Linked DNA regions of Homo sapiens. The protein of the gene in region 3 interacts with the protein of the main gene of each other region in a pairwise test. Each region holds a gene or a part of one and is shown on either strand. Other genes may lie near its edges. The genes, in order: UBXN7, GMCL1, CUL3, KLHL2, KLHL5, ZMAT4 and KLHL7.

The links.
Region 1: the proteins of CUL3 (region 3) and UBXN7 interact in binary tests that used the Homo sapiens proteins (3 or more experiments, as listed by UniProt).
Region 2: the proteins of CUL3 (region 3) and GMCL1 interact in binary tests that used the Homo sapiens proteins (3 or more experiments, as listed by UniProt).
Region 4: the proteins of CUL3 (region 3) and KLHL2 interact in binary tests that used the Homo sapiens proteins (3 or more experiments, as listed by UniProt).
Region 5: the proteins of CUL3 (region 3) and KLHL5 interact in binary tests that used the Homo sapiens proteins (3 or more experiments, as listed by UniProt).
Region 6: the proteins of CUL3 (region 3) and ZMAT4 interact in binary tests that used the Homo sapiens proteins (3 or more experiments, as listed by UniProt).
Region 7: the proteins of CUL3 (region 3) and KLHL7 interact in binary tests that used the Homo sapiens proteins (3 or more experiments, as listed by UniProt).

Annotation. Positions count from the first base shown.
Region 1 is NC_000003.12:196,359,051-196,363,478, reverse strand, and holds part of UBXN7 (UBX domain-containing protein 7), read left to right. Parts: intron 1-791; coding exon 792-1,185; intron 1,186-1,555; coding exon 1,556-1,635; intron 1,636-4,428. UniProt on the Homo sapiens protein: Ubiquitin-binding adapter that links a subset of NEDD8-associated cullin ring ligases (CRLs) to the segregase VCP/p97, to regulate turnover of their ubiquitination substrates.
Region 2 is NC_000002.12:69,874,306-69,878,733, forward strand, and holds part of GMCL1 (germ cell-less protein-like 1), read left to right. Parts: intron 1-4,428. UniProt on the Homo sapiens protein: Possible function in spermatogenesis. Enhances the degradation of MDM2 and increases the amount of p53 probably by modulating the nucleocytoplasmic transport.
Region 3 is NC_000002.12:224,501,509-224,505,936, forward strand, and holds part of CUL3 (cullin-3), read right to left. Parts: intron 2,315-4,428; coding exon 2,144-2,314; intron 1,565-2,143; coding exon 1,457-1,564; intron 1-1,456. UniProt on the Homo sapiens protein: Core component of multiple cullin-RING-based BCR (BTB-CUL3-RBX1) E3 ubiquitin-protein ligase complexes which mediate the ubiquitination and subsequent proteasomal degradation of target proteins.
Region 4 is NC_000004.12:165,318,411-165,322,838, reverse strand, and holds part of KLHL2 (kelch-like protein 2), read right to left. Parts: intron 1,528-4,428; coding exon of another isoform or gene 1,514-1,527; exon of another isoform or gene 1,488-1,513; intron 808-1,487; coding exon 779-807; 3' UTR 1-778. UniProt on the Homo sapiens protein: Substrate-specific adapter of a BCR (BTB-CUL3-RBX1) E3 ubiquitin ligase complex that mediates the ubiquitination of target proteins, such as NPTXR, WNK1, WNK3 and WNK4, leading most often to their proteasomal degradation.
Region 5 is NC_000004.12:39,123,497-39,127,175, forward strand, and holds the end of KLHL5 (kelch-like protein 5), read left to right. Parts: 3' UTR 1-2,737; downstream 2,738-3,679.
Region 6 is NC_000008.11:40,670,472-40,674,899, forward strand, and holds part of ZMAT4 (zinc finger matrin-type protein 4), read right to left. Parts: coding exon 4,233-4,428; intron 1-4,232.
Region 7 is NC_000007.14:23,164,287-23,168,714, reverse strand, and holds part of KLHL7 (kelch-like protein 7), read right to left. Parts: intron 3,018-4,428; coding exon 2,777-3,017; intron 880-2,776; coding exon 678-879; intron 1-677. UniProt on the Homo sapiens protein: Substrate-specific adapter of a BCR (BTB-CUL3-RBX1) E3 ubiquitin ligase complex. The BCR(KLHL7) complex acts by mediating ubiquitination and subsequent degradation of substrate proteins. Probably mediates 'Lys-48'-linked ubiquitination.

The DNA.
Region 1 (4,428 bases), on a different chromosome or scaffold from region 3:
TTCACCATGTTGGCCAGGATGGTCTCGATCTTTTGACCTCTTGATCCACCCACCTGGGCCTCCCAAAGTGCTGGGATTACAGGCATGAGCCACCCGGCCTGGCCTTCATTTTGATATTTAAAAAAATGCGTATGCTTACTTGAATCCAGAAGTGCAAGACCAGCCTGGGGAACTTAGACCCTGTCTCTTAAAAAAAGAAAGAAAAAAAAATATGTGTATATATATATTTATGTATGTATGTATGTATGTATGTATGTATGTATGTATGTATGTATGTGCCAGGTGCGGTGTCTCACGCCTGTAATCCCAGCACTTTGGGAGGCCGAGGTCAGGAGTTTGAGACCAGCCTGGCCAATGTGGTGAAACCCCATCTCTATTAAAAATACAAAAAAATAAATAAATAAAAATTAGCTGGGCGTGGTGGCGGGCGCTTGTAATCCCAGCTACTTGGGAGGCTGAGGCAGGAGAATCGCTTGAACCTGGGAAGGCTGAGGTTGCAGTGAGCCGAGTTCGTGCCACTGCACTCCAGCCTGGGCAACAAGAGTGAGACTCCATCTCAAAAACAAAACAAAACAAAACAACAAAAACGTGTGTGTGTGTATATACACACACATATATATATCTCCATTCCAATTTGGCTGTGTAAGACACAGTCCTTGCTCTTAAAGTAGAAGGGATACAGTCAGCAGAACATAATAATGAATGGCAAGCTATTATATTTCTTATGCCGTTTGACTTGTTTTTTGGTTTAACTTGTTCTTTTTCCTGTGTTTTATGACTCCATCTCACAGGAGAGCCTTATAGATGCAAGTGAAGACAGCCAGCTAGAAGCTGCCATCAGAGCCTCCTTACAAGAAACACATTTTGATTCAACACAGACAAAACAGGATAGCCGCTCAGATGAAGAATCTGAATCTGAACTTTTTTCTGGCAGTGAGGAGTTCATATCCGTTTGTGGCTCTGATGAAGAAGAAGAGGTAGAGAATCTTGCCAAGTCCAGAAAGTCTCCCCACAAAGATTTGGGGCATAGAAAAGAGGAGAATAGAAGGCCGCTGACTGAGCCACCAGTCAGAACTGATCCTGGAACAGCCACAAACCACCAAGGATTGCCAGCTGTGGATTCAGAGATACTGGAGATGCCACCTGAAAAAGCAGATGGAGTAGTGGAGGGGATAGATGTAAATGGTAAGTTACATTTAGACATACTTTACTTCAAACTTAGATATTGGGGCCGGGCGTGGTGGATCACTGAGGTTAGGAGTTCCAAGACCAGCCTCGCCAACATGGCAAAACCCTGTCTCTACTAAAAATACAAAACTTAGCCAGGTGTGGTGGCACGTGCCTATAGTCCCAGCTACTTGGGAGGCTGAGGCAGGAGAGTGGCTTGAACCAGGGAGGCGGAGGTTGCAGTGAGCTGAGATCACGCCACTGCACTCCAGCAAAACACTTGAGTAATTGCTGAATGGCTGTATTTATTTACATATTTATTTAAACTAATATTCTGTCTTAAACTCCTGTATCCCGTTTTTTTTTTTTTTTTAAACCCTTCCTTTAGGACCAAAAGCACAGCTGATGTTGCGGTATCCAGATGGAAAAAGGGAACAGATCACTCTTCCAGAGCAAGCTAAACTGCTAGTAAGTACAGGCTTGCTTTGGTTCAGTTCCGACCACTGCAATAAGACGAGTCCCAAATTGTTTGGTTTCCTGGTGCATATAAAAGTTATGTTTACATTATTCCATAGTCTATTAAGTGTGCAGTAGCTTTATGTCTAAAAAAAAGCACATAACTTAATTAAAAAAAGCTTTTGCTAAAAAGTGCTAATGATCCCCTGAATCTTCAGTGAGTCATCTTTTTGTTGGTGGAGGGTCTTGATATTGATGGCTACTGACTGATTGGGGTGATGGGTACTGTGGCAGTTTCTGAAAATGTGACAGCAGTGAAGTTGCTGCATCAGTTGCTTCCTTCGACAAAAAATTTCTCTGTAGCATGTGCTGCCGTTTGATAGTATTTTACCCACAGTAGAACTTCTTTCAAAACTGGAGTCAGTCTTCTCAGAATTTGCCGCAATTTTATCCACCAAGTTTATGCAATATTCTAAATCCTTTGTTGTCATTTCAACAGTGTTAAAAGCATCTTCAGCAGAAGTAGATTCCATCTCCAGAAATCACTTTCTTTGCTCATCCATAAGAAGCAACCCCCCTCCCTTTAATGTTTGATCATGAGATTGCAGCAATTCAGTCATATCGCCATCCTCCACTTCTAATTCTAGTTCTCTTGCAGTTTTTACCCCACTTGCAGTGACTTCCTCCAGTGAATTCTTAAACCCCTCAAAGTCATCCATGAGGGTTGGAATCAACCTCTTCCAAAGCCCTGTTCATGTTGATATTTTGACTTCCTATGAGTTGTGAATGTTCTTAATGGTATTTAGACTGCTGAATCCTTTCCAGAAGATTTTCAGTTTACTTTGCCCAGATTCATCAAAGGAATCTGTATTTATGCCCAGGCTGGTGTGCAGTGGTCATAGCTCACTGTAACCTTGACTCCCCGCCCCGGCTCAAGTGATCCTCCTGCCTCACCCTCCTGAGTAGATCACCACACCCAATTAATTTTCTTTTTTTTAGAGATGGTTTCTTGCTGTGTTGCCAGGTCTTGTCTCAAACTCTTGGACTCAAGTAATCCTCTCACCGCAGCCTCCCAAAGTGTTGAGATTTGGCTCCGTGCCTGGCCAAAATGTGTTTCTTAAATAAGATTTAAAAGTTGAAATGACTCCTTGATCCATGGGCTGCAGAATGGATGTTGGGTTAGCAGACTGGAAACAGCATTCATTTTTATTTGCATTTTCGTCAGAGCTCTTACGTGACTAGGTGCGTTGTCAATGAGCAGTAATATGTTGAATCTTTTTTCTGAGCAGTAGGTCTGAACAGTGGGCTTAAAATATTTAGTAAGTTATGCTGTAAATTGATGTGCTGTCTTTCCAGGTTTTGTTGTTGCAGTTACAGAACACAGACAGAGTAGATTTAACATAATTTTTAAGGGACCTGGGATTTTGGAATGTTAAATGAGCATTGGCTTCAACTGGAAGTCACCAGCTGCATTACCCCCTAACAAGAAAGTCAGCCTTTTTGAACCTTTGAGTGCAGCCACTGACTTCTCTCTAGCTGTGAAAGTCCTTGATGGCATCTTCTTCCAATAGAAGGCTGTTTTGTCAAACTTAAATCTGTTATTTAGTGTTGTTACCTTCGTGAACTGTCTTCACTACATCTTCTAGATAAGTTTCTGCACCTTCTGCATCAGCACTTGCTGCTTCACCTTGCACTTTGATGTTATGGAGATGGCTTCTTTCCTTCAACCTCATGAACCAACCTCTGCTAGCTTCCAGCTTTTCTTTCGTAGCTTCCTTAACTCCCTTAGCCTTCATAGGATTGAAAAGAGTTAGAACCTTGTTTTGGATTAGGCTTTGGCTTAAGGGAATGTGTGACTGGTTTGATTTTTCTGTACAGACCACTAAAACTTTCTCCTTTTCAGCAGCACAGCAGTAAGGCTGTTTTGCTTTCTTTCCTTTTTTTTTTTTTGAGACAGAGTCTTGCTCTGTCACCCAGGCTAGAGTACAATGGTGCGATCTCAGCTCACTGCAACCTCCGCCTCCCGGGTTCAAGCAGTTCTCCTTGCCTCAGCCTCCCGAGTAGCTGGGATTACAGGCGCCCACCACCACGCCCAGCTAACTTTTGTATTTTTAGTGGAGATGGGGTTTCACCATGTTGGCCAGGCTGGTCTCGAACTCCTGACCTCAGGTGATCCACCCACCTCAGCCTCTGAAAGTGCAGGTGTGAGCCACTGCTCCCGGCCTGTTTTGCTTTGTTATCATTTGTGTGTTCACTGGAGTAGCACTTTTAATTTCCTTCCAGAACTTTTCCTTGCATTCACAGCTTGGCTGTTTGGTGCCAGAGGCCTAGCTTTGTGTCTGTCTCAGCTTTCCACGTGCCTTTCTCACTAAGCTTCATCATTTTTAGCAATTGATTGATTTTGAGGATGGACACTTCCTTTCACTTGGGTACTTAGAGGCCTACACTGGTAGGTTATTAATTGGCCTACTTTCAATACTGTCATGTCTCCGGGAATAAGGAGGCCTGAATAGAGGGAGAGAGATGGGAAAACTCCCATTAGGTGGAGCAGTCAGAACATACTTCTTTATTAAGTTTGCGGTCTTGTGTGGGCGTGGTTTGTGGTGCCCAAAAGCAGAATAGTAACATCAAAGGTAACTGCTCACAGTTCATTATAATAGATAAAATAATGAACTGCAAGCATTACCAAAAGGTGACACAGAGACAGGCAGTGAGCACATGCTGTTTGAAAAATGGAGCCAATAGAGGCACTTGACACAAGGTTGCCGCAGACCTTCAGTAACTTGAAGCACAATGAAACAGGGC
Region 2 (4,428 bases), about 150 Mb from region 3:
TCATCTCTATCCCAGCGTAGTAAATGTGAAAACAAATATTTGTTTTAATTTTCATTTCTTTTTGTTTGTTTGTTTTGAGACAGAGTCTTGCTCTGTCGCCCAGGCTGGAGTGCACTAATTTTTAGTAGAGACAGGATTTCACCATGTTAGCCAGGCTGGTCTTGAACTTCTGGCCTCAAGTAATCCACCTGCCTTGGCCTCCCAAAGTGCTGGGATTACAGGTGTGAGCCACCGCGCCTGGCCCTTAATTTTCAATTTTCATTTCTTTGGTTACTGTATTGTTGGGTTTTTTTATGCTTATTGAACGTATCATCTCATGTAAACTGACAGCTTATATTGTTCCTGTTTAATTTTTTATTAAAATTTCATTTTTTTCTTGCTAATTTTTAACAGCTTTTATATATTAAAAATACATTTGTGATACTCTATAGTTTTTACTTTTTTTTTTTTTTCCGAGACAGGTTGTCACTCTGTCACTCAGGCTGGAGTGCAATGGTACAATCTTGGCTCACTGCAGCTTCCACCTCCTGGGCCCAACCTTTCCACGCACCTCAGCCTCACAAGTAGCTGAGACTACAGGCTCGCACCACCATGCCCAGCTAACTTTTTTGTATTTTTTTATAGAGACGAGGTTTTGCCACGTTGCCTGGGCTTGTCTGGAATTCCTAGGCTCAAGTGATCCACCTGCCTCCGCCTCCCAAAGTGCTGGGATTACAGGCATGAGCCACCAGGCCCAAACAGTTTTTACATTTTTGTCATTTGTCTTTTCAACCTTCAAAACAATCTATCTTTTTCTTTTATGATTTCTTTTTTTTGGTGTTATCCTTAGGCCTCCATCTTACTAGGATTATATAAATAGTCATCTATATATTCTTCTGTTCTTTTTATGGCTTAATTTTTTACTTTGGAGTATTTGACGATATATCTGAAATGTACTGGATGTATCAATGTATTTGAAATGCCTTATTGTACATGAAATACTTATAAACTTGCTTTCATTTCTGGACTTTTTGTTTTATTGATTTCTTTGTTATGAAGACAAGGCATTGTTTTAATTAGGCTAACTTTAAAATGCATTTTAATATTTAGTTACGCAAAACCACCTTCATTTTTCTTTTTTTCAAAAATCTCTCAGTTCTTTGTGCATGATTATTCTCCTGTATGGGATGTAGGATCATTTTATCAAGTTTCCTTGCAAAAATTCCTATGGGGATTTTAATTTATATGATTAAATATGTAGAGTAGTTTGTGGACCATTGATGTCTTCCTTTCTGGAATATGGTATTTTCTACATTTACGTAGGTCTTCCCTTATGTCTGTCTCTAAAATTTGTAGTTTTTCCCATATTGTTCCTGTGTATTTCCTGGAAGTATAACACTTAGTATTTTACATTTCTTTTTTTTTTTTTGAAACGGAGTCTTGTTCTGTCGCCAGGCTGGAATGCAGTGGCGTGATCTCAGCTCACTGCAACCTCCACCTCCCGGGTTCAAGCGATTCCCCTGCCTCAGCCTCCCAAGTAGCTGGGATTATAGGCACATGCCACCACGCCCAGCTTTTTTGTATTTTAGTAGAGACAGGGTTTCACTCTGTTGGCCAAGATGGTCTCGATCTCCTGACCTCGTGATCCGCCCACCTCAGGCTCCCAAAGTGCTGGGGTTACAGGTGTAAGCCACCGCACCCAGCCAGTATTTTACATTTCAGTTGCTAATATGAAATGAATCATTTGTTCTAATAGTTTTTGATAATGTAAGAAAGTTAGTGATTTTTGTATATTTATTTTGTAACTGTCCATCTTATAAGACCATGCTAAATGGATTTTCACTATAGAAGGTTCCGTCAGACAGCAATGTGTAGGAAGGATTAAAGATATGATAATGGCAATAAAACAATTTATGATTATATAGCTATAATTCAGATTAAAAGTGATAAGAACCTTAAAGAATGTAGCAATGAAGAGGAAAATATTGATGGGTTCTGGAAATAAAGTGGTGCAATTGAGAATTTGATTCTTAATTGTGTGTGTGCATGAGGAAATGTCAGATGGTTTTCTGATTTGAGCAATTTAATTTACAGTAGTGGTTTTACCTGAGATTTGAATTATAGGAAGGAAAATGAACATGACATAGTGTTGGTGATGGTGAAGAGATGATGAATTCTGTTTAGGGCATGTTTAATTTGAGAGCATCAAGGTGAAAATTTGATAGGCTGGTGAATAATGGATTTGGAGTTTACAAGTAATGCCTGAACTAGAAATAATAATTGGATGAGATAATGTACAGGAAATGTGTAGAGAATATGACAGGATAGAACCCTAGGGACCACTGGTATTTAAGAGATGGACAAAAAAGGTAACCTGGTGAGACATTGAAAAGCTGGGATGGAGAATCAAAGCCAAATTGCAGGCTTGGCGTGGTAGCTCATGCCTGTAATCCCAGCACTTTGGGAGACCAAGGCCAGAGGATTGCTTGAGACCAGGAGTTCAAGACCAGCCCTGGCAACTTAGCAAAACCCTATCTATACAAAAAATTGAAAAATTAGCCGGGCGTGGTGGCATGTGCCTGTGGTACCACCTACTTGGAAGCTGAGGCAGGAAGATCACTTGAGCCTGGGAGGCTGAGGCTGCAATGAGCCATGATCATGCCACCGCACTCCAGCCTGGGTGACAGAGTCAGACCCTGTCTCAAAACAAAAACAGACAGACAAAAAACACTACCAACAACAACAAATACCCAGAAATTTATTTAATTGTCTGGAAGTAGAAATGGGGACCTAGGAAGTTGCTGCTGCTCTGCTGCTGCTATATGTGGGCTCCACAGATTCCATCCACAATGGAATAAGGAAAATAGAACTTTGCTATAAAGGTACTTCAATGCAAATGTAGATGCAGATTGAACCTTTAGGTGAAACAACAGATTTGATGAAGCTCGGATCGACCTATCCTGTTTGGGAATGGAGAGTGGGGATTAATACAATTTAATATTCAAAAATTGGTGTATCCATTCAGCCAAGTGATATCCACGTGCCTTCCTTCTTTCTCCAGAGTTGGCCCTTTGACCTACCCTTCCCTGCCTCAATCTTAACTGTATTCAAATACTAGAAGGCTAATCTTCCTCAGAGCCTTTTAGTTATGGAACAGAATCTTGATTTTTATCATCAGATATACATATCATCAAAACATTTGTCCTCAACAAATTTGGTAAATGTGCCTTCACCCAGATTATTGATATAAATTTTGACTAGTTCAGGATGTCTCAAGCATCTGAAGACCAACCATGCTTTGGCATAATTCCTCTCTGGTGACACTTGTTAGCACAGTCTAGGTGATGGCCTCCCCTGATTTTGTTCACTGATGTCTTTTTATAATACCACTTTCCCTCGTACAGAGAGAGAGATTGTGTGTTTGTGTGTGTGTGTGTGTGTGTGTGTGTGAGACATTTGTACTCTCTACCTTCTTTATTCAAATTTATCTTCTTGTTCCCTCAACACAGAAGCTGTGTCTAGTGAGTCTGCTTCAGTCACACAGATATTCTAGTTTTAGTTCCTCTTCATGCAGGAATACATGTCTCAGTAAAAAATTAAAACTTTGGATTTAAACAGTGTTTAATAGTATCTTATCCAAAATAAATAAAGTGTAACTAATGCATACTATTGCAGAGAGCATATCCCAGGCATTTAAAACGTAGGAATTCTCATTTTAGTGTTTCTTCTTTTACTCTGAGGATTGATTCTATTTACCAAATGCTTCTAGTAAAGGATATATGAGGTTCCAAACAGAGATCTGTAGCATCAGGGATGTTATATTTGTGTAGTGTCAGCTCCTGTCTCTGGGAGTTCTGAGCATTCTTGTGTGTGTTGATGTAACTGAACCTGAAATTGCTTTTCCATGATAATGTATTTTATGTTTCAGGAGACAAATTACATGTTTGTCATAGGGACAGTGGGAAATGTCAATAGTAGGAACCCTGCTTTTTGATGATGATAATGACTCCCGACCTTCATCTGGGTGATTTGCTGTACCCAACGGCCATCAGTAATTGAAGCCAAGTAGCCAGGCACAGTGGCACCTGCCTGTAGTCCCAGCTACTCAGGAGGCTGAGGCGGGAGGATGAGGCAGGAAGATCTCTTGAGCCCAGGAGTTCAAGGCCAGCTTGGGCAATATAGAAAGACCCTATCTCATTTTTAAAAATAATTAATTAATTTTGTAAAAGGAAATAAATTTTTTTAAAAATTGAAGCCCAGTGAGAAGTTTATGTATTTCTAGACATTGTATCTGTTGACAAAATATGTAAGTATTTGATAGAAATTTTTGCAATAATGAAAATAACTACCATTATTGAGTACTTAATAGATAGCTGGCTTTGCAAAACCCCCTGTGTATTATCTCTTGTAATCCTCCTTTAAGTCAGGTACTCTTACTGTCCCCATCTT
Region 3 (4,428 bases):
AACCATCATTCCATTTTTATCTTACCTCAATGATTTAGTAATGTAAATTTTTAAGGGGAGGAATCAGTTTATGAATATCAAGAAGCATTCTACACTCCGATTTCTTCACAAGTATCCACTAAATGATTACTTAACTTTAAGGAAACTGAAAATAAACTTGGATGATGCACAGAAGAGAGGATCATAGAGGAGACTCTTAGATGGTGTACTGGGGGAGGTGGAGAACTGTTTATACATTCGCAAGTTGGTTAGGGGAAGGGAGGGTCACAAAGTGGACAGTCCATCCATCCCATATCAATATGCATGGGATCTAGCCCAATCTTCCCTATAGCTTTCAATGTGTAAGATTAGTGGAAGAAAAAAATTTAAAAACTTACTAGAGCAAACAAAAAAATACAAGAAAATATATCAATATATTAGATTTAACTATAAATTCCTAAACAATCTAAAAATAAAAATCCAGGATAATTACACCACTATTTCCTGTCCACCCGAAATTTCTGTCATGGACTTGCATCTTTCCTCCTCTCAGCTCTTCTCCACTGTAAACACTGATATTTATAAAGCAAATCATACAACTATTTACATTAGAGTCAGAATGTTTTCATAGAAATGAATGGTTATTCTACAGAATTACGTATTTTCACGTATCTGGTTTGCGAGACTATAAGGCCAGTAGAAGTGATGATCTCATATTTAGATACCAAAGGAAAAGACTCACAAATCTGTTAAATGGTTGTGACACATTTTAACCATAGAGTGGTACACGGTGATTTTAAAAATTTAAAAACTGTACAATTCTCTAAACTTAAGGTTAAGTTGAAAATCAGAGTAAAAAATGAAACTAAATTCTGAATTTCATTAAATGCTCATAAAACTCCCATCAGACTCCAAAGCTAAAGAAGTTCCAGCTCACCACCTTTGGGGAGTTATACCAAACACATTTATAATACATTAATTTCTGTGTTTTTATAGTCTCACTTCACCTGCTACGCACCCTTAGGATGTAAGTCCCATTTAAGCTAAACTTACAGAGGAGAATAATAGTAGTGAGGTATAGGAAGGTCAGGTGACTATCCCAAGATGACACAATCTTGGGGTAAAGTGAAAAGAAGAGTACTGAAACTCAGTAAACTTGTGTTAAGCCCAGTACTCTTTCCACAATTTATAATAGATTTGTATTATCTTTATTAACAACAGAATAATTCTCTTTATTAAATTGTCAGTGTATTCCTTCAAGTGGGAAGAAACAACTAAATTTTAAAAGAATAAAAAGTTTTAACATAAACACAGAATAAGAGGCAATGTGAAGGAAAATTAAGTACTCACAGATAAAACACATGTTGTCACTAATGACATTTAAAGAAACAACTGTCATCTGCTAAGTGGATGAAAATATACCCATTACAAAAGACTTTACATGAATATCTAAGTAGAAATTAACGCAGAATCTTACACCAGTTGCCTGTAGATGTTGCCTGAATTCATCCATCGTTGTGTTTGAGATGCTCATATCCCTAAACATTCCTTCCAGTTTTGACGTGAACTGACATCCACATTCAGTCTGTGGAGGAAAAACACAAATATACACAAATAAATGGTAGATGTTTCTATGAGAAAGTACAGAAAGAAATAAATTATTTCATGTTATTGCTATCCCTGATAATCTTCCTGTAAATTTTTCCAACAGTTGCTCTGTGCCTGTGGTTATCAAACTTTAGGATTTTAAAATGCAAATTCCCAGATTCTTTCAGAGATTCCAATATACCCCCATGAAAGGCAGGGCCCAGAACTGTTTTTAACTAGCATCTCAGGTGATTCACGTGCAAGTATTCTATGGACCACACTTTGTGAAAAAGAACTACACAGCATAGCCTCTTTATTGTTTCCCTTTTACTAATCCTCCCTTCCAGGCCTCCATGAATGTATCCTGACACACCAACAGAAATTCCAGCAAACTCTGAATGTCCCTGAACTTGAACAAATGTTAGTGTAGTCTGTGTTCTTCTCCAAAACAATCTACCTTTATTTCTAGAAATAAACACTTAATAATCTACCAAATTAATTTCCAATCACGTTGTCAGTACACAATCATAATAAACCTCAGTTAGGTGCACTCTATTTCATCTAAAACACACCTTACCTTTAACTTAGATATCATGTTTTTTTCAGAGTCATCAGAAACACTTTTATTTGTGAGAAGTCTCCTTGCCAAGTGTTGTTTATAATAACGTTCAAATACATCTTTTTCTTGCATAAACCTAAAAAGGACCATTGCTTTATCCAATATTGTTTCTACTTCTTGTTCTGTTAGCTGCAAAATTAAGATGATGTAACAATTATACAATTTTAGTTCTACAAAAGCAGTACTACGGTTCATTTACAGCTTAAAAACACTATTGTTTGAAAACATAGATATCTGGTTGACATACATCAAAAAAAGGGATACGGTTTGAGAAAGTGTCTCCTACTTCACACAGTAGCATCATTCTTACATTCTCATTTAGTGCATCATGAATGAGGGGTTGGAGTGGAATTCTATTCCGTAGAGGGCTACCACTGAATTGGAGGCATAAGGTAATATAGCGCTGGGTTAAGGGATGATTGAGAACAGATGAAATGAAATTTTAGTCACAGAGATTATTTTATGAAGCCTTTGCATATGCAGGCAAAAACTTACACAGCCAAAAGACGGAATTTTTCATTTAAGCTCACTGAAAGCCTCAACTGTGCAAACAAAAGGCAATAATTTGTTATAATCCAAACAGTAAAAAGGCCATTGCCCTTACTTTATTTTTTTATTTCTATTTTTTTTTTCTTTTGAGACGGAGTTTCACTCGTTGCCCAGGCTGGAGCGCAATGGCGCCATCTCGGCTCACCGCAACCTCTGCTTCCCGGGTTCAAGCAATTCTCCTGCCTCAGCCTCCCGAGTAGCTGGGATTAGACATGCACCACCACACCCGGCTAATTTTGTATTTTTAGTAGAGATGGGTTTCCTCCATATTGGTCAGGCTGGTCTTGAACTCCCAACCTCAGGTGATCCGCCGCCTTTGCCTCCCAAAGTGCTGGGATTACAAGCGTGAGCCACTGTGCCTGGCTGCCCTTACTTTTAAATAAGGGCAAAAGGATTCTGTGGCAGGTTGTATTAATATATTTGAAAAACGGAAGACCAAATGAATGCATAAATTAATAGACTTTTCTATTCTGTGCAACCTTAGTGATTTTGTTCCCTTATTGCAGCTACTGCCTGTAAAACCTGTGACGACATGTTGCTTTTCCCTTTGGTGTCACAAATTCCAAAATGAAGTCAAAAGAGACCAATTCAGATGTGAGCATGTTTTATGCTTCAGTTGATTTTCTATGCTGTCGTGAGCTCCTCAGGTTCCAGAGATATCATATATCACAAAGGCTTGAAATTGAGCTACACCAACCATTTTCTGAGATGAGATCTACTCTATCTATGCCTTAATATTCTTGGCATCCAATTATTGTTTGACATATAACCTTCAGAACCAGATGAGAGCAAACAACACTCTCTACTAGAAAGTTTTCTAGTTCTTTATCTTCAGCATGCCTAACTCTCAGTCATAAAAATGACTGTTTACCAACTACAGCTGTGTAGTTGTTCAGTTTTTTTTTTTTTTTTGAGACGGAGTTTCGCTATTGTTGCCCCAGCTGGAGTGCAGTGGCGTCATCTTGGCTCACTGCAACCTCCGCCTCCTGGGTTCAAGTGATTCTCCTGCCTCAGCCTCCTGAGTAGCTGGGATTACAGGCATCCACCACCATGCCCAGCTAATTTTGTATTTTTAGTAGAGATGGGGTTTCACCAAGTTGGTCAGGCTGGTCTCAAACTCCCAACCTCAGGTGGTCTGCCCACCTCGGCCTCCCAAAGTGCTGAGATTACAGGCATGAGCCACCATACCTGGACAGTTGTTCAGTTTTTTTGAGACAAGGTCTTGCTCTGTCGCCCAGCATAGAGTGCAGTCACGCGATCACAGCTCACTGCAGCCTTGAACTCCTGAGCTCAAGTGATCCTCTGCCTCAGCTTCTGGGACAACAGGTGTATACCACTGTGTGCCACTAATTTTTTTCTTTTTTCTTTTTTTTTGTAGAGATGGAGTCTCACTAAGTTAACAAGGCTAATTTCAAACTCCTGGCCTCAAGAGAGCCTCCTGTCTTGGCCTCCCCAAATGCTGGGATTATAGGCATGAGCCACCAAGCCCATCCAGTTGCTTGTTTTTGAAGCCAATTACACATTAAGTGAAATGTCTAACTACGTTTGGGCATGTCAAGTATTTCAAACAATATTTTTTAATAGACCATGGCACCCATTTAAGCACAGCAATGGGTCATGCTTAATTTTTATCTGTGAAATGTCCTAATTTTACATATAATTTTATATCTTTAAATAAAATTAAATGTTATTTT
Region 4 (4,428 bases), on a different chromosome or scaffold from region 3:
AAGAAAATAATAAATAAGCATAATTTATATTGTATTTTAAAAAGTTTGGCATCACACATATTCAAGTGTGTTACACCAGGTCCATTCCTCAGAAGTGGCATTTAAAGTGTTAAGCATTGTTAAATATCAAAAAATACAACTCTGTTTTACAATGTAGTACTGGCATAATTCAAAGTACTGTGCCAATTATAAATAGTATAATCAAGTTTCAAACATCTTTTCAAACATATTTAAAGGAAAGCATATAGACACACATTTATATGCACATAATTTATTATATTCATGTAATCAAAGTTATTTTATAAAAGCAAACAGTGTATCCCTCAACTAGTTTGTATACTTACGTAGATTTTAATATCTGTTCAAAGATTTTCAGTTCCTGGTATACAGATTTTTAGAAGAAATAAAGATAAAATTTAATTTTACAAGAACACACATTACTTCATCCTCCTTCACAAAATAATCTGTAGTCATTCAAGGTTGATAAGAACTAGTCTTTATGAAAGCAACTGTTGTCTAAAGACTACAGATTAAGTCCTGCAGTCCAAGTTTCTTATGAAAATTCAGTCAGCTGCTGCTCATTGCAGAAAAAGCCTACACGGTGCTTCTACCAAAAATAATCTTCAGTATCTGAGGCCTATAAAGGCAGACGATCGTATCTTCTGCTGAGACTTAAAGTGCAGCTACAAGTGGAGAAGTGCTAGATTCTCAGTCACTTCACAAATACTTGTTGAAGGCTGTTTCTCATGTATAAATATGCTGAAAATGTCCTTCAGGCTCATAATGGTTTATCAATAACTGTGACCCCTGAGCAAAGAAATGAAGAGAGAAAAAAGAAGTCACAGGCAGCACTCTGTATCTCTGAGAAAACACTCAATTCTTCATTATAATACGAAGGCAGGAGGAACTGTACAAATCATGTTTCAGAATCTCTTTCTTAAACTTTAGTAGTATTATCATTTGAATCTAAATGACAGTGAAAACTCTGTTTAGTTATGGGCTAGTTAAATATAAGACTATTTAATCCAGAACTAGTCTTTTCCTCTTTGTAGTTACAATTTGGAAAATATACTCAAAAGGGAACACAGAAACTTTTGAGCATGATGGATATGTTCATTATCTTGATTGTGGTGATGGTTTCATGGGTATATACTCTGTCAAAAGTAATAAAATTATATAGTTTAAATATACAGTTGACCCTTGAACCGACATGGGGGTCAGGGGTGCTGACCCTCCACGCAGTCAAAAACCCATGTATAATTTTTTACTCCCGCATAATTTAATTACTAATAGCTTACAGTTGACCAAACGCCTTACTGATACAGTCAATTAACACATATTTTACATGTAATATATGTTATGTATGTCATAACATGTTATGTGTTATATATTGTATTCTTAAAGTAAGCTACAGAAAAGGAAATGTTATTTAAAAAGTCATAAGGAAGAGGAACTATATTTACTATTCATTAAGGGGAAGTGGATCATCATCAAGGTCTTCATCCTTGTCTCTTCACATTGAGCAGGCTGAGGAGGAGGAGAAAGAGGAGAGGTTGGTCTTGTTGTTTCAGGGGTGGCAGAGGCAGAAGAGGTGGAGGAGGTGGAAGGGAAGGCAGGGGAAACAGGAGAGGCAGACACACTTGGTGCAACTTTAAGGAAATACACTGTTAATTCCTGTCTGACTTTTTTGTTTTTTTCATTTCTCTAAAAATGTTTCCACATAATACCAATCGTCTTTCCACTACTTTCTTCAGTTACAGTGCACATATCATAGAAGGGCCCATTTCATAAAGTAAGTCATAAACAGTCTTGAATAACCAAACCCTTTTGCCAGACTGTCTAATGTCAATTTGTTTTCTGACATTGCTTCTACATCTTCTTCATTGTCTGGCAGTGGTTAAGAAGCACTCATCTCCGTCGAGTCATGTTCTGTTAATTTCTCTGGTTTGGTATCTATTAGCTCTTGAATTTCTCCAAGATCCATACCTTGAAACCCTTCACCATCAACCTTTATAGCCACATCCATGATCTCTTTCATGATTTCTTTGACTGGCTCTGTCATAACTCCTGTGAAGTCATACACAACATCTGAACACAGTTTTTTTCCAGCAGGAATTTATTGTTTTGGGTTTGATGACTTTCATAGCTTTTTCTATAACAATGATATATTCAATGGTGTAATCCATCCAGACTTTCATGTTTTCTCTGTTGAGATTCTCTTCCATAGCACTGGCAATTTTTTCCATAGAGTGCCATGTATAATGAAACTTTAAGGTTCCTATGGTCACTGATCTAGAGGCTGAATTAGATACATTGTGTTTAGGGGCAAGTAGACCACTTCTATGCCTTTGGTGTTGAACTCATGGGGTTCTGGGTGGCCAAGGGCACTGTCCAATATCAAAATAAAAAGCAGTCCCTTACTGGCATGGTACTTCCTGAACCTGAAGCATAGATGGAACCAGTCCGGGAAAAGATTTCTTGTCTAGGCCTTCTTGTTATACAGTCAAAAGACTGGCAGCTGGTATTTATATTTTCCCTTCAAGGATTGGGGGTTAGCAACTTTTTAGATAAGAGCAGTCCAAATCATAAACCCAACTGCATTTGCACAAAATAGTAGAGTTAGCTTATCCCTTTCTGCCTTAAATTCTGGTGCTTGCTTATCTTCCTAATAAATGTCCCTGGTGGCACATTTGTCTGCATTAAAAACTTGTTCAGGCAGATATCCATTCTCCTCAACAACTTTCTTCATGGCATCTGGGAGCTCATCTGCTGGCCCCTTGGTTGACAGAAGTGTTCTCCTGTTATCTTGACATTTTTTGAGCCAAACCCCTTTCCAAAATTATCAAGTCATCCTTTGCTTGAGTAGGCTGAGGAAATTCTCCAGCTTTAGATCCTTCACCTTCCTTTTGCTTCAGGTTGTCACATAATGACTTTCCTTTTTCTCAAATCATATTAGAGTTGACAGGTATGCCTTTCTTACAGCAATCCTGCACCCACCAAAAACCAAAACCAAAAAGTCAAAAATAATAAAAATAATAAAAATTTAAAAATTAGCCAGGTGTGGTGGCACATCCCTGTAATCCCAGCTACTCAGGAAGCTGAGGCATGAGAATCGTTTGAATCTGGGAGGCGGAGGTTGCAGTGATCTGAGATCACGCTGTTGCACTCCAGCCTGGGCGACAAGAGTGAGATTCTGTCTCAAAAACAAAAATCCTGCACCCACATAAAAGCTGCATGTTCAACACAAGATAAAAAGGGATTTCACAAAAAGTGTGAAGTTTTCAAAACTGCTGGGATGGCTGCAGGGACGGCTTCATGAATTTCCTTTTTCCTTTTTACAATGATCCCTACCCTGGATTCATTTATTTTGAAATGGTGGGCAAGTGCAGCAGCAGACCTCAATCCATGGTATATCTCAAGCAATTCAGCTTTTTCTTGTAATGTCATGACTCTTCTCTGCTTCGTTGAAGCACTTCCTAGCACCATCACCGGTGGCACTTTGTATGGGTCCCATGGTATTATTCAAGGTTTATGATATTGCAGTAAACATGATGAAAAATAAGGCAGAACCATGAGAGAGAACTTTTTACTGAGATACGCATCGCTGAAGAGACAAACTGCTCTTTCAAAGGTAATTAGCCCCCCACAGCTTTTTAAGTGGATACTCACAACAGCTGAGCTCACCAATACAGCAACAGGAGACGGCTATAAAATTATTATAGTAGTACAGTAACATACTACAGTTAATTTCATGCAGTTATGATTTAATATTGTATCTTTGTGGTTTGTTCACATTTCTCTGGACTGTGAATGACACCATCTATGGTTTGTGGGTGTTTGTTCCCATAAGAGTTTGTGTGCATATGTTTTGATAAATTTTAACTTTTTGTAACAGATTTGTAGATATTTTGTAGTAAATGATAAAACAGACTAGTATCTACGTATATTTTATGTGTTCATAATCTTAAACTTAATTTTTTCAATATTTCTAGGTTATGCAGTGCATCTGAGTTTTTTCAAACTGTTACCAATCTCCAAAAAAATTTTTCCAACATAATTATTGAAAAAAATCCACATGTAAGTGGACATACACAGTTCAAACCTGTGTTGTCCAAGGGTCAACTGTACGCTATGTATTCTGTCAGTTTATACCTCAATGAAGTTGTTTTAAAAATTCATCTAATATTCACCCATGTTATACTGGAATTCTACTGTACATAGTTCTTCTCAGTACTGTTTTGAATGATACATAAGCAACAGTGATGGTTAATGAGCTTAAACATTTTCTTCCTCCACTATTGGATCAATTTTGTTACAGAAACATTATACTATTAAAAGCAAGATAAATATAATTGAAATAAATAACATAAAGACTCACCATAATATTTATTAAAATTAACATTTATCTTACTAAGAGAATGGACCAAA
Region 5 (3,679 bases), on a different chromosome or scaffold from region 3:
TGATCACACAGCATGACCAAGTGAGATTTATCAAAGAAATGCAGGGATGGTTCTACATACAAATGTCAATCGATGTAATAATATACCATATTAATAGAATGAAGGGGAAAAAACAGCATGATCACCTCAATTGATAAGAAAAAGCATTTGACAAAAATCCAACACCCTTTCATGGTAAAAACACTCTGCAAACTAGGAAGAAAAGGGAACTTTCTTAACCTGATAAAGACATCCATAAAAACCCACAGCTAACAACATAATAGCAAAACATTGAAAATTTTTCCCCTAATATCATGAAAATTCCTGATTTCCCCACTGCTATTCAACATTATACTAGAAGGTCTAGCCAGAGCAATTAGGCAAGAAAAAGAAATAAAATGAATCCCAAATAGGAAGAAGTAAAACTACATTTGCAGAAAACATGGTCCTATATATTAAAAATCCTAAAGAATCCACAAAATGATTCCGGCTGATTTTAAAAATTCAGCAATGTTGCAGGTTGCAAGATCAACACACAAAAGTCTAAGAAAAACCTGAGGGGAAATTAAAACAATTTCATTTACAATAACATGAAAAAGAATAAAATACTTAGAAATAAATTTGACCAAGAAAGTGCAAGACTTGGACACTGAAAAGTACAAAACGTTGCTGAAAGAAATTAAAGAAGACCTAAATAAATGGAAGACATCCTGTGCTGGCAGGTTGGAAGACTTAACATTGTTAAGATGGCATTACTCCCAAAATTAGTCTATAGATTTAATACAATCCCCATTAAAATTCCAGTGACCCTTTTACAGAAACTGAAAAGCTGACCCTAGAATTTATATGGGATTGCAAGTTACTGAAGGTACTCAAGTCTGTTCAAAACAATCTTGAACAAGAATAAAGTTGAAGGACTCACATTTTCCAATTTCAAAATTTACTGCAAAGCTACTTCAATCAAAACAGTGTTGTGCTGGTATAAAAATATATAAAGCAATAGAGTAGAATGGAAAGTCCAGAAACAAATTACGCCAATACACTATGGTCAATTGATTTTTGACAAGGGTTCCAGGACCATTCAATGAAGAAAGAACAGTGTCTTCAACTAATAGTGCTAAGACAAGTGAATATTCACATGCAAAAGAATGAATTTGTACCTGTACTTCATACCATATATAAAAATTAATTCAAAATAGATCAAAGACCTAAATGTAAGAGCTAAAACCATAAAACTTTGAGAAGAAAATACAGGAATAAATCTTCATGACCTTGGATTTGGCAATGGTTTCTTAGATATGGCACCAAAAGCACAAGCAACAACAGCAAAAAAAAAAAAAAAAAAAAAAAATCAAAATTAAAAGCTTCTACATATCAAGGGACACTATGAAGAAAGTGAAAAGACAACCCACAGAATGGGAGAAAATATTTGTAAATCTTACATATCTGGTAAGGAACTAATACCTAGAATATATAAGGAACTCCGATGCTCGACAACAAAAAGACAAACCAATTTTAAAATGGGCAAAGGACTTAAATAGACATTTCTCTAATGAAGATATACAAATGGCCGACAAGCACATGGAAAGCACTCAACCTCATCAGTCATTATGCAAATCAGCGCCACAAGAAGATACCACTTCACACCTATTAGAATGACGAAATAGACCTAGGATCTAAACCTACAGGAAAAAAAATGAATAATAGAGAAAATAAATGTTAGAGAGGATGTGGAGAAATTGAAAACCTTCATTCGTTGTTGGTGGGAATGTTAAATGGTGTAGCCACTGTGGAAAACAGTTTGGCAGTTCCTCAATAAGTTAAAAAAAAGAATTACCATATGACCCAGCAAGTCCACTCCTGGGCATATACTGAAAAGAACTGAAAACAGGTGTTCAAGCAAAAACTTTCACGCAAATATTCATTGCAGCACTAGTCACAGTAGCCAAAAAAGAGGAAACAACCCAAATGGCCATCAGCTGATGAATGAATAAACAAATTGTGGTATCTCCACACGGCACAATAGAATATTCAGCCATAAAGAGAAATGAGGGACTGATACATGCTAAAGCATGGATGAGCCTTGAGCGCATTTTTGCCAAGTGAAAGAAGGCAGACACAAAAGGCAACGTATTGCATGAGTGCATTTATATGAAATATCCAAAATAGGCAAATCCATGGAGACAGAAAGCAGATAAATGGTTGTAAGAAGCTGAGAGAAAGGAGTGGGGAGAGATTGCTAAAAAGGAGTTTCCTTCTAGGGTGATGAAAATGTTCTGGAACTACTTATTGGGGATGATTGCACAACATGGTGAAGGTACTCAATGTCACTAATGGTAAATTTCACATACACTTTACCATAATTTTTAAAAAGCTTTATTAGCTACATTATGTTATGATACTTAAATGTCATAACAATAGCATTCTGTACGCTTCACTAGGATAAAAACTTCGGATTTATATGCATCTGGAAGAGAAATTTTTCACTGTAATTTGCAAATAAATGAATTTCTAAAAATCTAACAGAAAGGCTCTTAAATCTTAATTTCAACCTAAGAAGGGAGTGAGAAACAACGAGAACCATGAGGGGAGAGTTAACGGGGAACTTCCCCACCGTCCGGTACATGGCAGGCATTCCACAAATGTTTTCTGAAAGTTGAAATAGACATCTTTTCATGAACTCTGTAATATTTGAAATTATTGATAACTCTTACACAAAAACAAATATTCAATAAAATGATATTTAATTTCACTGTGACTAGATAATACTCATGTAATATTTTTTATTTTTTAACTGGAGTAAAAAAAATCAAATGCCATGAAAAATTACAGGCTACTTATGGCATTTTCATCATTCTGAGTCTTAAAGAACTTATATGAACGCACCACCTCTTCCATCACAGCCTCTGTCCTCATTCCTGAGATGTAGGAGAGTACCGTGTTTTTTTGTATCTTCTCCTGGGGCTGAACAACTTGCAAGCCTCTTGAAGAAATGCCGTATTGACAGATGTGGGTATTGGCATCATCGCTAGACTTCACTGCCACCCTCATTTCCCCCTAGTCCTGGGTAATTATTTGGGCTAACGAGGTATAATCTAGAAAGCAAACCCAGGGAAGCTCGGGAAGCAAATCTAGTGCCCTGGATCTTTGCCCAGGTTCAAGCTGGTTCCATTTGACCATATTTCTTTGTGGATAATAAACAATTATATTTAATTCAGGTATTTTCACATACTTTTGAGGACAGCAAAGATCACCTGGTGGCCATCAAGCAGACCATCTGGAGGCAAAACTCCTTATCTGAGGAATTCAGAAGTCATTAGACTGCCCTATTATCTAAAGCCGGCATCTTGTACTAGGCTTCTTTACCAAAAATGTATTTAATGTAAGTAACTAGAATTTTTATACATCTCCGGAATGAATGTGTGTCAGAAGTTACTGGGCAACCCTTGCTGACGTCAAGGCACCAAAATGTGTACAAATGTAATCGTTTACCATGACCTGTGTAACGAATGTGGTCAAAATTACCCTTACACTCCTGCTTTAAGGTCCATAAATACCTTGTTATTACTCCATTTTCACACTGCTATAAAGAACTCACACCTGCAATCCCAGCACTTTGGGAGGCTGAGGCTGGGGGATTGCTTGAGCTCAGGAGTTCGAGACCAGCCTGGGCAACATCTTGAGACCCCTGTCTGTACTA
Region 6 (4,428 bases), on a different chromosome or scaffold from region 3:
AAGATTTTTTTAGGTAAGACACAAAAAGCAATGATTATAAAAGAATAAAAAAGTTAAGTTAGCCTCCCAAAATTTAAAAATGCCTGCTCATTGAAGGGCTTAAGAAAATTAATAGCCAAGTCACAAACTAGGAGAAAATATTCATAATGCATATATTCAACAAAGAATGTGAATCCATAATACGTGAAAGCCTTCTACCTCATCTCAAATAAAAGGCAAAAAATAAATTTTTAAAAACAGATAAATGACATAAACAGACACTTCACAAAGGAAGATACACAAATGACCAATAAGCACATTTAAAAAGTACTTGACGGCAGGGTGTGGTGGCTCACACCTGTAATCCCAGCACTTTGGGAGGCCAAGGTGGGCAGATCATGAGGTCAAGAGATCAAGACCATCCTGACCAACATGGTGAAACCCCGTCTCTACTAAAAATACGAAAATTAGCTGGGCGTGGTGGCACTGCACCTGTAGTCTCAGCTACTTGGGAGGCTGAGGCAGGAGAATCTCTTGAACCTGGGAGGCAGAGGTTGCAGTGAGCTGAGATCATGCCACTGCACTCCAGCCTGGCAACAGAGCAAGACTCCATCTCAAAAAAAAAAAAAAAAGTACTTGACATCATTAGTCAATATGGAAATATGAATTAAAGGCATCATGAAATACCCTCCTATATGCACTAAAATGGCTAAAATTTAAAAGACTGACATGAGCAGATGTTGGTGAGGCTATGGAATTTTTATATGTTGGCTTTTTGAAGTGCAAAGTAACGCAACTATTTTAGATTTTGGCAGTTTCTTCTATAGTTAAAAATACATGCAACTTATGACCCAGCAATCCTATGCCTATTTACCAAGAGAAGTAAAACATATGTTGACCAAAAAAAAGTCTTGTGCCGTAATGTTCATGAAAGCTTTATCTAAAATAGCACCAAAATAATCCAAAGTTCATCAATGAATAGAGTGGATAGACAAACTGTGGTATTTTTGTGTATAGAATACTACTCAGTAATAAAAAAGGTACTACTTTGCTTTATATGCTATAAATGGATAAATTTCATAAACAATGTGTGATCCACAATAAGCCAGACACACAAGAAATACATATTTTATGATTCCACTTATATGGAGTTTTAGAACAAGCAAAACTAATCTATGATGAAAAAATGAGAAAAGTGGTTCTCTGGAATGGAGGGTTGGAGTTGACATGGGAATTTTCCCATGATGGAAAAGTTACGTATCTTAATAGGGCTGTGGGTTACACAGGTGTTTGCACTGTCAAAACTCATAGAACTGTAACATGTAATATCTCTGCATTTCACTATACATATAATATGCATCATTTTAAAAAATTAAAACAAAATTAGAAATAGTTTCTTATAAAAAATATTAAATCAGAATCCTTCTAGAAATGAAAATGATTGCCATGTTAAGAATGTAAGATTTCAGGTGATTTTGTTTTAGGGCATTCTCTGTTCATTCATTCATTCATTCAGAAACTATTGAGTAACTATTATGTGTCTGCCACTACTCTAGGTGTTTTGAACATATAAATGAGCAAACCAGACATAAATGCCTGCTTTTAAGATGCTAATAATCTATAAAGTAAGTAGAGAGAAAGAAAATACAAAAAAAAGTAAGTAAACAAGACAGTGTTTAAAAATGTGAGAAGTGCTATGAGAGAAAGAGAAAAAGCCTACCATCCTATTATATTGCTATATCGTGCTTCAGCTGCCTGATACCATTTTATTAAAGTCATGGATATGCCTATATTTATGGATTAGCATTTTTGCCTTTATTAATTGATTGATCATACATTAGAAGCATTCCAGGAATAGAGGGGTGTGTGTGTGGCCTGTGTGTGTGTGTTTCAAAGTGCTGGGTTACCATAGTTGCTTTATTCTTAAGCTTTTGCAATATTTAATGCTTGAATAAATATCTATCAGGATATCACCTGGAGCGTGTGGAAAGTTTGGTTTCAAGGACATTGTGCTCAATGCTAATCGCATTCCATGGGCTACTGAGTCACAGTCACATTGAGTTATCGAGTCAAAGCAGCCTTTTTGTCTTCTGTATGAAAGACAAGCTGCTCAAATGTTACAGAATTCAGACACCAAAGTCATTAAGATGTAGTTGTACATAAAAGATACAGCACTGATAATTCAAAATAGACAGGAAGAATGTGCTGTAGGAATAATTTTTCTTCAAGTCATAATAACTGGCACCAAACATAAAGTCCTATTTTTCTCCTTCACTGCCCAGCTGGGAAGGAGTCACTGAGACAACTTGTTATCTGCCAGTAACACAGGCATTGCAGTTAGGCCTTCAGCTATGGAGAGATCCTGCCTATTTTCTTTAACAAGACATAGACTGAAAACATATGAAATCCTCCATCAAAAAGCAGTAGTACCATTGACTCAAAAGCTTCTGCAATGAGCTTATCCAACATACTGAAATAGGAAGCACCAAGTTGCTTTTCTGTAGCTAGAACACATACACATAAATAAAGTGTTATTAATGTTTGCTCTTTTTTTGTTGTTTTTAATCAGGTCTTTTGGAAAAAATCAATCTCGAATCAAGCTCTATATACTTAGCCATGGATCTCCAACTTTAAATCTATGCTGCAGTATAAGATTCTTCCATGATGACTTCTTAGCTGTCTCTAGCTTGTTTCCTGACCTTTGCCCATGCGTATGTGATTCTGCTCACATGGAATGCCTTCTCACCTTCTAAAATGCCACCCACTTTTCTAGTTCCAAATCAAGTATATTCCCTTGGTGAGATCTTCTGCAACCAACATATTAAGAAGTGACCTGTCCCTCCTCTCAACTCATTGTAGCATGACCTTTTATATTACTTATTTTGTCTAGAAATGTTCCAAGTCATTTTCTGTTATAATTATCCCCCTTACAGGTTCACAGCCAGATTACGGTAATTAGAATTGTAGGCTCTGTATGCAGAACCCTGTTTAAACTGAGGTTGCCGTCTCCAAATTGATTTGCAAATGTTGTTATCTATAGCTTGCAGCCATTATGAATGACCTGCCCACAAAAGCTCATCAAACTTACACCAAATCTGAAGTATAGTATCAATAGCACCCCTTGCAGAATTATTTTTATTTTTCTGAGAAAAATGCATTTTCTCAGAAAATATAATATGCAATTTTGCTGTACTTCTATGCTGCCAACATCAAGCTGATCAAAAGTATGTAGGTGATCAAAAATGCTTAAATGGTTGCTGGTGATAAAATATTCTATTTAGTCCCACAAATTGGTTGATGGCTTCCTAAGGAATCCACAGAAGTAATCCTCACGCTATGTTTTCCAAATTCAGCAGCTTCTGTGAAACCTCACAGGAACTTCAAATGATACATGGTTTCTAGCTGTCAAGAAAACCCTGTCTGGGGCAGGGGCATGGTGCGGAGGAGACAGGTGTTGACTACATAGTGCCACACAGCACTGTCTTGCCGTGATTTCCCGGAGATTTTATTGAAGGGGCTTGGGCTTGCTTCAAGTCATTAAATTGAGTCAATTTGTTGCTTTGTTTTGGCTAAATTTATAAAAGCACAAAAGTTTAAGGTAAGATAATACTATTTGGCCTTTTTATCATCTTTTTTTTTTTTTTTTTTTTTTTTAAATTTTTGAGACAGAGTCTCACTCTGTTGCCCAGGCTGGAGTGCAATGGCAAAATCTCGGCTCACTGCAATTTCTGCCTCCTGGGTTCAAGCGATTCTCCTGCCTCAGCCTCCCAAGTAGCTGGGATTATAGGTGCGCACTGCCACACCTGGTTAATTTTTGTATTTTAATACAGACGGGGTTTCACCATATTGGCCAGGCCGGTGTTGAACTCCTGACCTCAGGCAATCTGCCCACCTCAGCCTCCCATTCAGCATCTTTTTTTTCTTTTTTAAACACTGCTACTCTACAAAAGCATTTGGTAAAGAAGGCAGTTAAAGATAAAGCAGAAGGAAAACAATCTGGTTCATGAATGTGCCTTTGGTCTGAAAAGCAGTCAATAAAAATATGAAAATAAACACTTTGAAACAAAGGAGATTATAAAAATTAAACTAAAGCAAGCCTTCTGCTCATTTCCTTTCTTGTCCATTTCTTTTGGGTGAGCCTCACTTTTTCCTTAATAATTAAAGCAAGAAGAAGAATCATTCCGATTTGTGAAAGCCGCATCTTTTCTCTGAAAGCCCAGTTTTGTGGCAGAAGTGAGAAGAGCTGCCCTTACCTCTCAGTTCCCCCATATCCAGGGTTGTCCCCAGTTGTTCTAACAAAGCAACTCTTGCCGCATTCTTTTTGTGTTTCTTGCCATCATAATGTTGCTGGGCCATCAGAGGGTTATTAAACCAGGCTGCACAGAGCCCACAGTATCTGTCTGAATCTCTTCTTTGATAGGGAGATGCGACCACCGGAGCAGTGTCCAT
Region 7 (4,428 bases), on a different chromosome or scaffold from region 3:
TTATGTCCTCATCAGCTTTAATGTCACTACTCACAACCCGTGCCCTCATGCCCTCTCCATTATTCAATGATTAGCACATTTCCTTTGGCTACATTGAATGTGTTCCATCATTAACTACAAGGTCAGAAAAACTGGCTAACCAGTTATTTCTTTAGCATTTTACCTTTTTGACACACTTTGCCTTTTTAAAAGCAGTTGATTTAAGAATAATTTTATTTAATAAACATGAATCTAAATGTACTTAGGAAGTTTACACCTAAAAAGAACTAGGGAGGCATGATTTATTAATGCCATGAGCCAATATCTAATATTTCTACTTAAGGATAAATTTATTGCTGGTCATAAACTCCCCCCTCCTCCTCTACATTTCCTGACCGCTCAAACAAAAACATTTTATGAGTTGACGAATCAATCAGATGTGTCTCATTCATAGGCATTTATTGCACGCAGAACCAGAAAGAAAGAGGTTCCCATGGGGTGTAAGTTCAAGCCATTTCTGGTGTAAGGGAAAGGTCCAGGTCATAAATATGCCACTGACCCTAGCACACTCAAAAGTTTATATACACTCTTCACTCAAGGACAAAATTCTTCTGTTGGGTTCCTCTGGTCTTTTGACATCTCCTACAGAGCTTATAGAATACAGTTAACTGTAAAATAAATTTTAAATAGATACATACGTTTCTGTGGCAGGATCATAAACTTCACAGGAATTAAGCACTCTCCCAGAAACATTGTTTCCTAAACTTCCACCACAAACATAGATTAGGCCATTGGCTTCCACCATCCCATGGCTGCAGCGCTGGGTCAGCATGCTGGGCTTTGTGTGCCAGCTTTCAGTTCTCGTATCATAGCACTCAAATAAATACAGAGCTGAGTTTCCTGTAAAAGAAAAAGGCCCCATCATGCTTAACTTTAGTGTGTGCGGGGGTTTGGAAAGAACTGACTGTAGATCTTATTAGTTAAGGAAGGAAGAATTTAGGGTCATACGGCCATTTTCATACTCAATCAACAACAACAAAGTGTAGGAATAGTTTAAGAAAACGCTAATAATCCTGTTTGTATAGACCCTGGAAAACATCCTTAAAAGGATCTGTTGGAAATACTTATTTATTGGTAATTAAACTTTAGAAAAATAAATTTGATTTCAAAAGAAAAATTAAATAAGAAGCCTTATATATGTCTTCAAGCCCCATTATGCATGACGGGAATTATCCATACTTCAAATGTTTATATAAAGTGGAAAAGCATAATAGTTCCTTACAGATGGTAGACCCATACCTTAAAATATGAAAACTACTATCTGATCATATTCTTATTTAATATTCTGGAATAGCTACAGCACCATTAACAAAATTATATTTCCTAACTATTCTCAGTTAGTGTGGTATATCCTGAAATCACACTGGTCCCTGCTTGAGTATATTCTCAAAATATTGATGTATATTTCTGATGTATTTTGATTACACAATTTAAAGGCAAAACATACATTCATCATGTTTTGAAACTTCTACACACTGTAGGAGTTCAATAAAAAATTTTAGAAATGATACTATTAAAGTTTAAGTGCTTTTTTTTTTCCTTCCCAAGGACAAAAAATTTTAGAAGTTACCAAACTATTTCTCATCTCCCACCATTCTGGGCTAATATCAAATGATTTAAAAACGACAACACCTTTATAATTCTGCGTTGCAACTAAGGTCTGTGAAAAGTAAAGATCAGAAAATAACAACTAGAAGAAGCAATGGTCATGACCAAAAATAACTTATTTTTAACTTTTTAAACATTCCTGATTTGGTAGGTTCAGTGGGTGGACACTATAGGAAAATATATAGTATATAGTAGATTAAAAAAAAACTACTACTTAAGCTAAAAACACACTTAGCAAAGGCTGAAGAAATGAAGTTATCTGCAGTACCACAGAACAGTTACCGTCTATCATCTTTAGGATTTATTGTATTTGAAATATTCTACATTATAACAGTCTGTGAAGAATGCTTTTAAAGAGAGGAAATGGTTACATTTAGGAAATAGTGATTTTTCTTGTATTCATTTGACATATAGTTGAGGGTAAAAACATAAGTATGCAGACCAAAAGTATAACCATTTACGGTCTCCCTAGTTTTCTTTATTAGCCCATTATTTAAGCTAAAGAAATTACTTGAAAATGAAAGCATACAAAAGCTATTATGTATCTAGCCTGCACCTATTCATTTAGAAAAATTATTCATTTAGAAAAAGAGCACTACTGGACACTAACACACTATCCAATAAGGTTTTTATATCCACACCCACATCCCATTCTGCTCAATAAGCATAAATACCACTACAGTCATTAAAAACTTAAAGAATAAAACAAATGAAAAAGAGCATTCTTTTTTCTAATAAAAAGAAAGCAAATATAATACAAATTTTAAAAGCCTGAATATAGTAACGAGTTCTTAAAGAGTCTATAAGTTGAACTCTGAAATCTTTAAAACAAATAATATTATGCAGCCCAAATAATTTAGAACTATAATTCAGATAATGTCAACTAATGCTTCATTATGATAAAAAAAATGGGCCATTAATCTAGGAAGCTAAAGTTCTGTAATTTAATGGTTTGTAAAGCAACGACATAAACCTTCAGGGAGATGAGCTCTAAAATGTGACAAACACATATTTAAATTACCAAGAAAGTATCTGGACAAATAATACCAGCTGTTTATTTAAATATGAAAGCCAAGATACTTGGCTTTAAAGCATATGCCCCAAACCAAAATACTTAAGAAGTCCTTACCTACTTCTGAACCTCCAGATGTATAAATTTTGCCTTCTGCAGCACATGCAGCAAGGCTGTCTCGAGGTGTCGGAGGACCCAGTTTCGAATACCAGCTATCCTTCACTACATTATAGCAGTCCATTCGCTTTATTGGGAAAAGCTGAGAGCCTCCCAAAATGTATACTACATTGTCCCAAAACACGCATGCTGCATCTCTTCGTTTTTCAAAGGGGCAGCGGATGTCTGTCCAGCTATAATCCTGTAGCAGAAAAGGATGGGAAGCTTTCAGTAAGGAAAAAAATATAACTGAAAAGGACAATGCAAAGATACAGTCAAAAAACATATAAGAATATGTTAATTTATTAGACTACACATACAAATGTTTGGCTTGAGACTATTACCAATTTAATCTTGTGTGGTTTCTGCAGAATGTTGATTAGATGGGGCGGAGGGCAAAAGGCAGGCACATGACTGCTTTGGGTCCTTTCTGGCTCTAAAATAAACTTAAATATATTTGGATATACCATCACCACCCTGTCTTCTATTCCTTCTGTTATTGAAGACAATACAAGAAGATTCTAAAATAAGTTGTTTTATTTTTTAAAAAAGCTTTTTCAAATGTAAAGGTCTCCATCCCTTCCCTGCCAGATATATAGTGTGATATAAGTAATCAATGGATAATATGAAGCTCAAATTGCCATTATCCTACTGATAGTCTAAAGCCAGAAGGTATTTTGTGGACTTCTTTATTAATTTTCTATATTGAGTTGAGCCAATGTAGTCAGCTGGACTTTAAAACTGTTGATGTTTATAAGGAAATACTTGAGTAATCTCTTCTAAGTACTCTGGATACTCACTTTTCACCCCAATGATTAGAAATACACACCTATCAGTACTTGACAGTAAGGGCTGTTCACAGCATCTGTTTCTTCACTATGTTTGATAGCATCGAAGAATGCTTGTGCCGCCCTTCCATGTATGTGCATGGGGGGATGCCCCTAAAGTTATAGTATCTTGGACCCTCTCTTTTTTTGAGATAGGAAGCTACAGCGTTCCTGCTATTTTCTGAAAATAATCAGGGTCAGATAGGAATTCATACCATTCCCAATCTCACCAAGGAAAGCACTATGTGTGATTATTGAGTTTCCTTCGAGAAAATCTGACTGATAACCTATGATCGTATCCAGTGTTTCAGGCATTCATTGGATTAAAGTATCACAGAACATCAGGAATGGTCTCTTAGGAAAGGAAGAGCCCCTAATGTAGAATACTTTGACTCCTGACAAAGATGAACATTTTGCTTTTTAGGTGACCAGGAAAATAGAGCCTTAATAGCTTAGGATGTTATTCTCTAATTAATATCCCCGTAGGTTACTCAGTGGTGGGCACACAAAACAATGTGATAAACATAACATGTTCGTGAAACTTCAATTCCACTCAATAAACACTTGAAAAACTGGGGGAAAATATTTTCACTTGTTCTCTTAGAGAAACTGTATACCACAGAATGAAATAAAGAGATAAAATAATGATCATATTGTACAGGGAACAATCCCTCAAAGATAAACTAAATCATTCTCTTAAATGTTCTTCATATCTACTCATAATACCTATCTAATCAGGTTTATGTAGCAGAGAATTACAATTTCATTAACTGCATTAACTCAGTG